Regions from separate parts of the Homo sapiens genome. Here region 2 is linked to region 1. The links come from fine-mapping of genetic effects on gene expression. A gene starts in region 1. The other region holds a variant in brackets. All regions are shown on one strand. Distances are from middle to middle. Region 1 holds the start of TCAIM (T cell activation inhibitor, mitochondrial). Region 2 overlaps ZNF445 (zinc finger protein 445).

Region 1 (5,376 bases):
AAGCAGAGGTTGCAGTGATCCAAGGTCATGCCATTGCACTCCAGCCTGAACAATAGAGTGAGACTCCATCTCAAAGAAAAAAAAATGCTATAGGGCACTTAGAGGGCCCCTCAATCTTGGGCTAAGACTCCCAAAGCTATTCCCTTTTGTTCATGTACATAGAAAAAGGCTTAGTCAGATCTGGTAGGGCTGAGGTCAGGGCTGAGATTAAAGCCTATTTTAAAGTGTTTAGAGCATGCTTCATCTCATTAGTCCAGTATAGAGACTGTTCCTGAGTTCCCTTGAGGGCTTCATATAAAGGTTTTGCTATTAACTCAAAGGAAGGAATCCATATTCTGCAAAACCCAGCCTTACCCAAAAATGACTGAAGCTGTTGTTTAGTTACCACAATTGTCACGTTTAAGATCTGTACAAGCACTACAAAGGCTTTTTCACTGGGAATTAAAATAAGACCCCAAAATTGAACCCTTTGTGTGGATATTTGTGCTTTAGAAGGAGATACTTTGTACCCACAATTAGCAAGTTTGTTGAATACTAATACTGTATTTTGGTCTGGAACAGCCTGGTTAGGACTACAGATTAGTAAGTCATCCACATACTGAAGTAGATTGCTATCTGGGAGAAGCTGCAGGGGCTCTTTTGGTGAAGTGTTAATACAGCTAGAAGGTGGGGCCTTAGCTGTAAATTAGCTTGTAATTTTGTAAATCACAACCTAATAGAACAGGGCTAAAAAGGAGTAAAGGAATAGCCTTTCATTTTACAAGGGAATGGCTGTGTGAAACAGCCTCATTGGGGTTTTCCATCAATATCCATGAGGAAAATGGAGGACTGGCACATTGGGCCATAGTAAATGTTTATAAAGCTGAATAACTGTCCCGTGTATCTATGAGTAACATTATCTGTTGTTCAGCCACAATCAGATTTGCCCTGGGATCATCCACAGAGATGGAAAAGACAGGGCCGTGGATGGCTTCAAGGCCCCATCTAGAGGATGGATGACTGACATTTCAGAGGCTTGATCATAATCCAGGAATAGAATTAGAGGTGTTTGCCCTTGCTCTCGCCCTCACCCTCACCCTCGTTCTGCAGGATCCCCTTGTCAGGTAGGTTGGTGAGACTGTGGCTGTCATAGCCTAGAAGGAAGAGGTGGCCCCCCCTTCATGAGGGAGGGACACTCATTCTTCCAATTTGCAGTGAGGACAGGGTCCCAGGGATGGCTTGCAACCTGGAGGTTTGGGACATTCTCAACTTCAGTGTCCTTAAAGGCTGCTTTTAATAAAGTACAAAAGGGAGTTTGTGGGCCTTGCTCTAATTTTTGGAGTTTTTGTCTGATGTCTGGGGAAGCCTGACTTATAAAATGTATGGCCAGAAGGGATTGGCCCTCAGGGCTTTCAGGATCTAAATCTGTATATTTATGCATGGCCTCCATTAGTCTAGCTTGGAAAAGGGAAGGGTCCTTGGTCCTGAGTGATCTCTCATAATTTAGAAAAATTAACAGGTTTTATTTCATTCCTTCCAACAAACATGTTATAATCTTCTCTTCCCCTGTCTCTGTTTGGGCTGGCATTGGCAGCGTGGTATTGCCAATTGGGTTCTGTGTTGGGGACAGCTTCTGCCCTGGCTCTATTATTAGGATTGCCAACATGAGTTTCGTCTGCCCAAACTCGAGCTAAAGACCGTGATTTTTTCTTCGTGGGAACAGCAAATAGTTAATACCACAAATGTGTCTTGCCAGGTTAAATCAAAGGCAATAAAGCCCGAAATTCTTGAATGAACTTAGAGGGATCCTGGCTAAATGAACCCAACTTGGATTGAATTTGCCAAAGTTCAGACAATGGAAAAGGGACATGAACTCAAATTGTTCCCAAATCTCCGTTTGCCACCTTGTGGAGAGGCATAACACTTGGGGGATTTTCTGAGGACTTTGTACTAGTGGCATATGTAACTCCTGTGCAAGTATGTGAGGGTAATAAAGTATCTGGATGGTAGGGGACAGGGGTTGATTGGGGCATGGAGCAGATGGCAAGGGGTGCACAATGAGTTTTGACATGCGTGCATTACGGAGATGCATAGAAATTCTAGTTACTTTTAAATTTGGAGGGAAGAAGTCTGGTACCAGATGCTGGCTTTAGGTAACAGGGAAGTCTAGTTACCTCTAAATTCCTCAGGTAAGGAGTTTCTGCCTAAGGATGGTCGGCTTCATGGCCACCAGGTGATCTTTGCTTTCAATTCTATTGGCTTGATTTCATCTGTGGCAGTTTCTGGGGGGAATCAAAATTATAGGAACAAAATAAAACTAACAGTAAAACTTTCATGCTGACTGGGGAATGCTTAACGTTTAAAAATAGGTGCTGAAGGGTCCAAAGCAAACAACACAAGCCGGAAAAGAAATGTTTAAAAGTTAGCTATATTTATACAAGGAAAACCAAAAGAAATACTTAAATGAGACTTTTAAAATTCGAGGCTCTCCACTGAGACTTGTTCCCTGGCGCCAGCTCCGGGAGTTCCGCAGAGCCTCGCCCCCTGCCAGGGCGCCCGGGGCGAAGGACCGCACGGCGCATGCGCGCCTCCTCCAGCAGTCCCTTTCCCCTTCTTCCCCAAGATCCAGCGCGTGCTCGGTTGCCCTTCTCCGTTCCTTGCAGGCCCTTGGGTCAGGACCCACCACCTGCCGGACCATCATTTTCCGAGTCCCTCCGGCCTAGTCGGAGTGCTCGCTCGCGCCTCCTAAAGCTCTCAGCCGAGCGCGCCGAGACCCCTCAGGGCGGCCGGTAAGAAGGCGGAGGGGCGGGGGCTCAAAGCGCGCGGCGAAGGTGCAGCAGTTACCAGGGTGCTGACGTCAGCTAGAGGCAGGGCACCGCGGAAGGTTGAATCCACGCCCTGGCTGTGCGCAGGCGCCGTAGGGGGAAGGCCTGGCACGCTCCAGCCAACCAGGGCGTCACCTGCAGCTCGTCCCCCTGCCCGGGCTTGCCTCGAGCGCCCTGCCGCCGCCGGAGCGGGGAGGGTGTTGGGGGCAGGTGGAGCCGGGAGGGCCCAGCTGAGAATTCAGGGTTGGGGGCTCAGAGGGCACTGCGGCTAGGAGCCCGTCAAAGCCTGTCGCCCACCGGGGCGAGGGCAGGTGGGAGCGCCTGGCCGTGCGTCGCGCGCTGGTTGGCCAGCTGACGCCCCAGTGCGCATGCGCGTCCGAACAGCCCTGCGGGCGGAGCGACTGTCCTCCCTTCTGGTGTACTGGGTGGGAGGTGGAACTAGTCGGACAAAGCCCTCGCGTCGGACCCTTGCCAGAACTGTAAGGAGCAAGAGGGGAGGGGCTCCGGTGGTGCATTCATGCTCCTCTAGGGGGGAAGCGGGGTCGGAGGGGAGTGCTCAGAGCCACCTTAGCGCAAAGTGCTAACTTTTGAATTGAGGCAGTGCCAGGGGACGCAGTATCCGCATCGCATCTACATTTTAACTCGCTGTGAAATGAGAACGCAAAGACGATTTAGGTTTTATTGTTTCCGACTTATATTTTTCCGAGGTCTTTGATTTACGGGAAATTGTTACGTACTAAATCTCATATAGCGAGATTTAGAAAAGGAAGCTACAGAATCTAGGCTAATGTATCTAATAGCATTTCCTGCTTTTGCTCTTTTTCTTTGCCTTTTTCCCCTACTCTAAGAAGTTCATATTCAACTGAAAAGCCATGAAAATTACCGCTTTTGTCCCTCCTTGATATAACAAACTGCTTTCAGAAACCGTACAAGATAGTCACTAAGGGAAGTCACAGTTCAAATGAGAGTGGCATGATATTAATTTTGTTAAAATAAATTACTTTCAAATAAAAGTTGTGCCAAATGGTCAAAGCTCAATCCTGAGAGCTCTATTTGGCACACACTCGGTGTTAGTTGAAAGTAAGCAAAACAAAACCGTTTTTCGTGTACTCTTCCATAATTTGGATTTTTCACTGATTTAGGTATCTTTCCACCAAATTTGGTTTGAAACTGCACAGATTTAATGCCTCACTTAGAACAGATTTTAGGTAAAATTAGAAATTTTCACTTTATGAAACAGAAACTAATATCACTGTTAAGTAGATTAAAGTAGTCATTTACAATGGTTTGTAAATAAATTTTATCCTTCCCGGTCCTCTGCCCTCTTCCAGGAAAGGCACCATTTCCTTAGAGAAGACCTTCCTGAGCTCTCCCCGCCCCATTCCAAGTGTTGCGTCTGGGAGTTTCTCATATTCTGTGCATGTTTGTATTATTGCATTTACTGCGTTGTTTTATACTTATCTGCTTGTGTCTGTTTTTACACTCCCCCCTCCCTCTAAAAGTCTTTTGAGTATTAGAATTGTCTTAATAATTTTCTAGTCCCAATGCTTTACGCAGGACCTGGCCCATAAGTGGTGATGAATGGGTGAGTTAAAGACTCGGTATGCCTCCCAAGTGTGATAAGACAGTGCAACCTCTTCAGTTATTTTATAGCATTTTCCAAGTGGAAGTATAGTGGGCTAAGTGCAGTATGGACAGGAACCACCTATGTAAGAATTTATCTGAAGACGAGAAGCCTGCGGTTGATGTGGATGTCCCAGACTTTTGGAGCTAGTGTCTGAATGAGAGCACCCAACTCTACTCTGAAGCAATGTGTCTTCAGTCAGCTGATAGTAATTTGATTTTCTGTGTAGCTAGTCCTGAAAGAGGAAGAACATTAGATCTGAATCTTCTAGTTGTCTTAGCAGTTATAATCTCAAAGTAAATTTACAGATTGACATTCCAGTTATCAGGCCTTCTAATTTAGCTTCCCCAAGGCCCACGTATTTCTGTCTTGAAGTGATAAAATTGGGTTCTGTTCTTACAAGGTTGAAGACTAACCCAAGATCTGGGCGTTGTGAAGCGGCAGGCAGCCATGCCTGCCAACCTGCTGGACATTGTCTCTACTTAGAATTTTGGTTTTTTTAATCTGAAAAGTACATAAACCATACAGGAAACAAAGAACTAATTCAAGCAAAAACTTGAAATCCTCCTTTGATTTTTAGCATAAATTGGGTAGCTAAAGATCCAAGTTTGTATTAAATAATTATTTTTAAAGAATTAAAGCTTAAACATTAACAGATGCCCCAGAATCCTCTTTGGTGATAGAATCAGGATTCCCTAATACAGTGGTTCTCAAACCTGAGTGTGCATCAGAATCCCTGACAGTGTGTTAAAACAGATTCCTCCATCCCACCCAGATTCTGATTCTGCAGGACTCGGATGGGACCTGATAATTTGCATTTCTCACGGATGCTGTTGCTGCTTTGAAAACCACTGCCCTAAGAGTTATTTCTTTCTCTCCTTCCTACCCTGTCCCTTTCTTCTTTTCCAAAACTGGATCCTCATCTGTCACTTAGTCGTCAGAGCCCAT
Region 2 (5,376 bases), 110 kb after region 1:
AGAGGCACAAGGGTCAGACAAGGTCAGGCCTTGAAGAATGAAGAGCTGAACTGGCAGAGAGAGGGGTGTGGCACTCCAGGTGAAGGGAGGCAGCACAAGGCAGAACACTCTGGGGGGCTGGCATGGGGAAGGGACAGGAAAGCCAAATCCAACATTGATTCTGCCAAAATCTTTAGTAGTTAGCACCAAGTAGTCAGGCTTCTACTTTTTTTCCTTTCAGCTAATCTGAATTCATTAATATTTATATAATTATAGTACTTATAGAACTAAAATTATTTGAAAACTCAGGTTATTGGACAAATAGGTTCAGTATAATCCCAAATATAAACAGCTTACTTCAGGATAAAATAATTTCTGTTCTTTTGGCCGGGCACAGTGGCTCACACCTGTAATCCCAGCATTTTGGGAGGCCGAGGCGGGTGGATCACGACGTCAGGAGATCGAGACCATCCTGGAGATCGAGACCATCCTGGAGATCGAGACCATCCTGGCTAACACAGTGAAACCCCGTCTCTACTAAAAATATAAAAAATAACCCAGGCGTGGTGGCAGGCACTTGTAGTCCCAGCTACTGAGGAGGCTGAGGCAGGAGAATGGTGTGAGCCCAGGAGGCAGAGCTTGCAGTGAGCGGAGATCGCGCCACTGCACTCTAGCCTGGGTAACAGAGTGAGACTCCGTATCAAAAAAAAAAAAAAATTCAGTTTTTCACTTCATTCTTTGCACATTTTAAAATTTGATTAGAATGTTTAGAAATAAGCACATTTCATTCTATAAAAATGACAGGTCAGGCACAGTGGCTCACGCCTGTAATCCCAGCACTTTGGGAGGCAGAGGTGGGTGGATTGCTTGAGCCCAGGAGTTTGAGACCAGCATGAGCAACATGGGAAAAAAAAATAAAAGTTTTGTCTCTACAAAAAAATATAAAAAATTAGCTGGCAGGGTGGCACACACCTGTAGCCCCAGCTACTCGGGAGGCTCAGATGGGACCTGAGCCTGGGAGGTCAAGGCTGCAGTAAGCTGTGATCCTGCCACTGCACTCCACCCTGGGCAACCCTGTCTCAAAAAATAAAAAAGACAGTAAAAATATCCCTATACTGGGGCAGGAACTTTACAAGGTATCCTGTGGCAAAGGGAGCAGAGATGGGGGGAAAGGGGTGCTAAAAGTTTGATTGGAAAGGGACTTTTCCATGGTTACAACACCAACTGACATGGAAGCTGCACCTCTGAGAGGGCCCTGGTCCTAGAGGTCAACCACCTGATGGAGAGCCTTGGTAAACCAAGCCCTCTTTCACCAATCTCAGGAATCAGGTAGCACAGCCAAGCACTCTAACTTCACACATAAGGAAATTGATGCAGAGGTTCATTGACTTGCTCAAGATCAATCCTGCCAAGAAAAGGCACACCATGCCTGGAACCCAGATCTGATGACTCCAAGACCCTTCCTATGACTCTGGCCCCCCTGCCCAGCCACTTCTAGTGCCAGTTTTGGGACAGTGAAGGGACATCTTCAGTGCCATGAACAGCTGCTGCCGTAGGAAGGCAAGAGGATGGCAGAACCAAGATGACCAAACCTTCCTGAGGACAAAGCTGAACAGGCATCAGAACACCAACAGGAGACTTCTGCCCCGCCCCCACCATCCTGTGACACCACCACACAATATCAGAGCCTTCATTTTCACCTGCTCATGGCAATCCAGAGCAGGTAAGATTATTCCATACTCTACTGAAAAAGACATCTTCCAGGTTGGTTTCTTCTCATTTCAAGAAATGACCAGCTCCATGAACGGGCCCCTATAGTCAGGACACTGCTCTACTATTAAAACATTTTATCCTTTCATTCATAATCTGACCTCTTCAATAATCAGAAGCAATGATTACTCACATGCTTTAGCAATATCACTCCTTTGCCTTTAAGTAATTGATTCTTGCTTTTTGCTTCAACACAAGTGGGTGGGCCAGTGAGGGAGCTCCTCCCAGAACAGGCTGCCTTTTCTCCTGAGAGCAGCAGGCACATGCACTTGTTCCTTCGGGTTGAATCTGATTGCTAGCACCAGATCTCATACATGGAGAGGGGTATGTGAAGCTGAGAGGGGCCTGCAGTGTGCAGGGGCTAGAGACATGAACACAACAATGGTAAGCGTTTATATCTGCTGAGGCCGAGGATCCTATAGAAAATTCAGAAACGGAGTGGGGAGGAGTCTGATTTATGGGAACTGGCAGCAAGGCTAACTGCATGAGAAGCCTTTCACCCTTTTACTGAGTCCTTGGATCTGTGGTTAACCCTTATAAAATATAATTCAGATTCAAACCACATCACTCCTCAACTCAAAATTGTCCAAAAGCTCCCTGCCTCCCTCTGAGCCAGCTCAAGCCCCCGTAATGACCCATGATGCTCATATGGCCGGGCCTGTGGCCTCCCTGGCCCCTCTCCTTCCCTTCCAGCTGGCTCCCTGCACTCCATCCCAGGGGCTTCCTTCCTGAGGACACCAGTCAAGACCCAATCTCCTCTGCCTGCAACTCTCCCTAGAGAGCTACCTGCTACCTCCCTGGCTTCCTTCACGTCTTTGCTCACATTTCACCTTCTCAGTTGAGGCCCTCCCTGACCAGACTATCTAAAATCACGACTGATCTCCCAATCCAGCACTCCCTCT[G/GA]CTCTTCTCTGATTCACTTTGTCCACTACACACATCACCATCCAGAATACTGCGTATCCCATTTGTTTGTCATCTGTAAAGATCCAAGATGGCAGGATTTTCATCTGTTCTGGTCCCTGCTGGGTCTCTGGCAAACACACCAGCGCCTGGTGTATGGGAGTGCTCAGCACATTTCTGTTAAACAGATGGACCGCTGCTGCCTATGCAGGCCTGTGGGATGGGGATGGCAACAGGGTACTGGTAGAGATCCACACGCCAAGCGCTTGAGCCCAGCATCCTGCTCTCCTCCACCTGCCGCTGAGACCACTCTAACCCCCTAGCAGATATCCAAAAGCCAGCCAGGAAGGCTGAAGCCCCAGCCAGAACTCCCCAGGGGGCATTTGGGAAGGCTAGGAGTTCTTGATGCTGCTGCTTTTAAAGTCAACAGAATAGGCATGGCCACAGGCCAAACTTGAAGACAAATCTAGGATCCCACTGGCCCCTTTCCAGCAGCCATAGCCCATGATGCCACAGATATTCTGTCCAACCACAAAGGGCAGTGGTCTCTCTCTTCAGAGTTGTGGAAGGAGACCTGAATAGGGGAGCCGCAGGCTATGGTGCAGAGGCCACTCCTAGGGGCCGGAGTCTCCAGAAGGGCTCCAAAGGACATGGTGCTGCACTTCCCCAGCGTCACATCCTAGCAGGCAGGCTGGGGACTCCCCGAGCTTTCAAATCCTTGGGATTCTGTCACTAGCTTCCAAAACAGAAAGGGCTGGGCCCTTTATCAAAGTTACTCCACAATGCCTATAATTAAGGGTTCTCTAGCAGGGGACTGAGAACCCACCCCCACTGTCACTGTCAGGTCCCAGGCTAATCTCTAATATGGTTTTTCATATGCCGAGCCAGGTTCGAAGACCACCTGAAGGTCTTTCCACACTTGCTGCATTTGAAGGGCCTCTCTCGAGTATGAAATCTCTTGTGGCTAATGAGTTGTGAACTCTTGTTAAAAGTTTTCCCACATATGCTGCATTTGTGGCACTTTTTCCCAATGCTTATGTCCTGGAGTCCAGTGAGCCTGGAGCTCTGGCTGCAAGCTTCTTTGCAGTCTTCGAGGGGCATCTCTTCACTTGGTTTTAGCTTCTGTAATCTCAACTTTGTGTCCTGAGAGGAAGACCGTGCAGGCGGGCTACGTTCAGCCTGTGCTGCTCTGGTGTGTTTCCTCTGGTGACTGGAAAGGGTATGTCTCCCAATGAACTCTTTCCCACACCACTGACATTTGAAAGGTCTCTCTGTAGAGTGGATCCTCTGATGGTTAACAAGGCGATAGTTTCTATCATAAGATTTCCCACATAGATTACATTTATAGCGCTTCTCTCCACTGTGTATTCCCTTATGATCTAAAAGGGTTCTTTTACGTGTAAAGGTTTTCCCACATTCTTGACACCAAAAACGTTTCTCACCAGTGAGGATTTTTGGCTCCACATTTGGAGTCTTTTCACTTTCATGGCAATCATACTGTTTTTGAAGAGAGTGAATCCTCTGATGTCGGTAGAGATTGGAACTCCATCTGAAGGCTTTCCCACACTCCCTGCACTTATATGGCTTCTCTCCAGTGTGAACTCTCTGATGGATGAGGAGGAATGAGTGATTGCGGAAGGCCTTGCCACACTGGCTGCATTTGTAGGGCTCCTCTTTGGAGTGACTGCTCTGAGGAACCTGGAACACTGTGTCCTGACTAAAAGATGGCCCGCCCTCAGGTTTTCTTTTCATGGCATGCTTCTTCTTATGAACAATAAAGGCTGACCTATAGGCAAAGTCCTTCCCACAATCGCTACACTGGTAAGGTTTCTCACCTGTGTGAATTCTCTGGTGGTCAACGAGAGTTTTCTTTCTAGTAAAAGTTTTCCCACACTGCTGACACAGAAATGTTTTCTCCACAGCGGGAGCACCCTGGGGCTGACTGCAGTCAGGAGATTGCCTGAAGCCTTCACGACATTCATCTTGTTTGTAGAATTTTTCCTCCTCATGCAACCTCATATGACGAGTAAAGTTTGATCTCCATCTAAAGGTTTTCCTACATTTGGTACATTTATAGGGCTTCTCCTGGGTGTGAATCCTTTGATGTTCAAGAACATATGACTTACAGTGGAAGGATTTCCTGCACTGGCTGCAGTCAAAGAGTTTCTCCCCACTTTGGTCTCCCAAATGATGATCAAACCCTGAGCTGTAGGTGAGAGCTGCCCTATACTGATTCAATTCAAGAAATTTCTTCTTAGCATGGGTTTCTCGGTGCAGACGGTAGGCTGACAGGCGTCGGAAAGCTTTCTCACATAAATCGCATTTATAAGGCTTCACTCCAGTGTGAATTTTCTCATGCCGCGCACAGTTGGAACTCCACCGGAAGGCTTTCCCACACACCCTACATTTAAATGCTTTCTCTTGAGTGTGAAGTCTCTGATGATACGCAAGATGGGAGCTATGACTGAAAGTCCTTCCACAGTCACTGCACTTAAATGACACTCCCACTGTGTGAAGACTCTGCCCACGTTGGTGATGAGAGCTAAGGCTGAAGTCTTTTCCACACACGTCCTTTTTGTTCCCTTTCAGTCCACTATGAATTCTCTGATGTAGGCTGAAGCCCCCAATCATGTGTCTGAGCCCCTTCCCATATTTCTTGTAGTCATAGTGGTGTGAACTCATTCTGAAGTGTTTGCCACAGCCATGTTTAAGGGATTCCTTTCTTCCA

What was found. PIP is the estimated chance that this variant, and not a neighbour inherited with it, causes the effect.
Region 2: its variant is fine-mapped to the expression of TCAIM in whole blood (TOPMed, PIP 0.94).

What each region holds. Positions count from the first base shown.
Region 1 is chr3:44,335,552-44,340,927 of GRCh38, forward strand. It overlaps TCAIM (T cell activation inhibitor, mitochondrial), which reads left to right and starts at 3,215. Exons shown (of 11, transcript NM_173826.4): 1 at 3,215-3,283. LOC105377055 (a long non-coding RNA gene) reads right to left here and starts at 2,567. Exons shown (of 4, transcript XR_940782.4): 1 at 2,154-2,567. It also overlaps a transcript of TOPAZ1 not described here. RefSeq lists enhancers at 2,228-2,881, 2,566-2,735 and a silencer at 2,876-3,265.
Region 2 is chr3:44,443,075-44,448,450 of GRCh38, forward strand. ZNF445 (zinc finger protein 445) reads right to left here. Exons shown (of 8, transcript NM_181489.6): 8 at 1-5,376. The coding sequence ends at 3,501. Among named protein-coding and RNA genes, the nearest start is that of LINC01988, 18 kb to the left of the region's middle. The variant G/GA (reference allele first, on the strand shown) is at 2,652.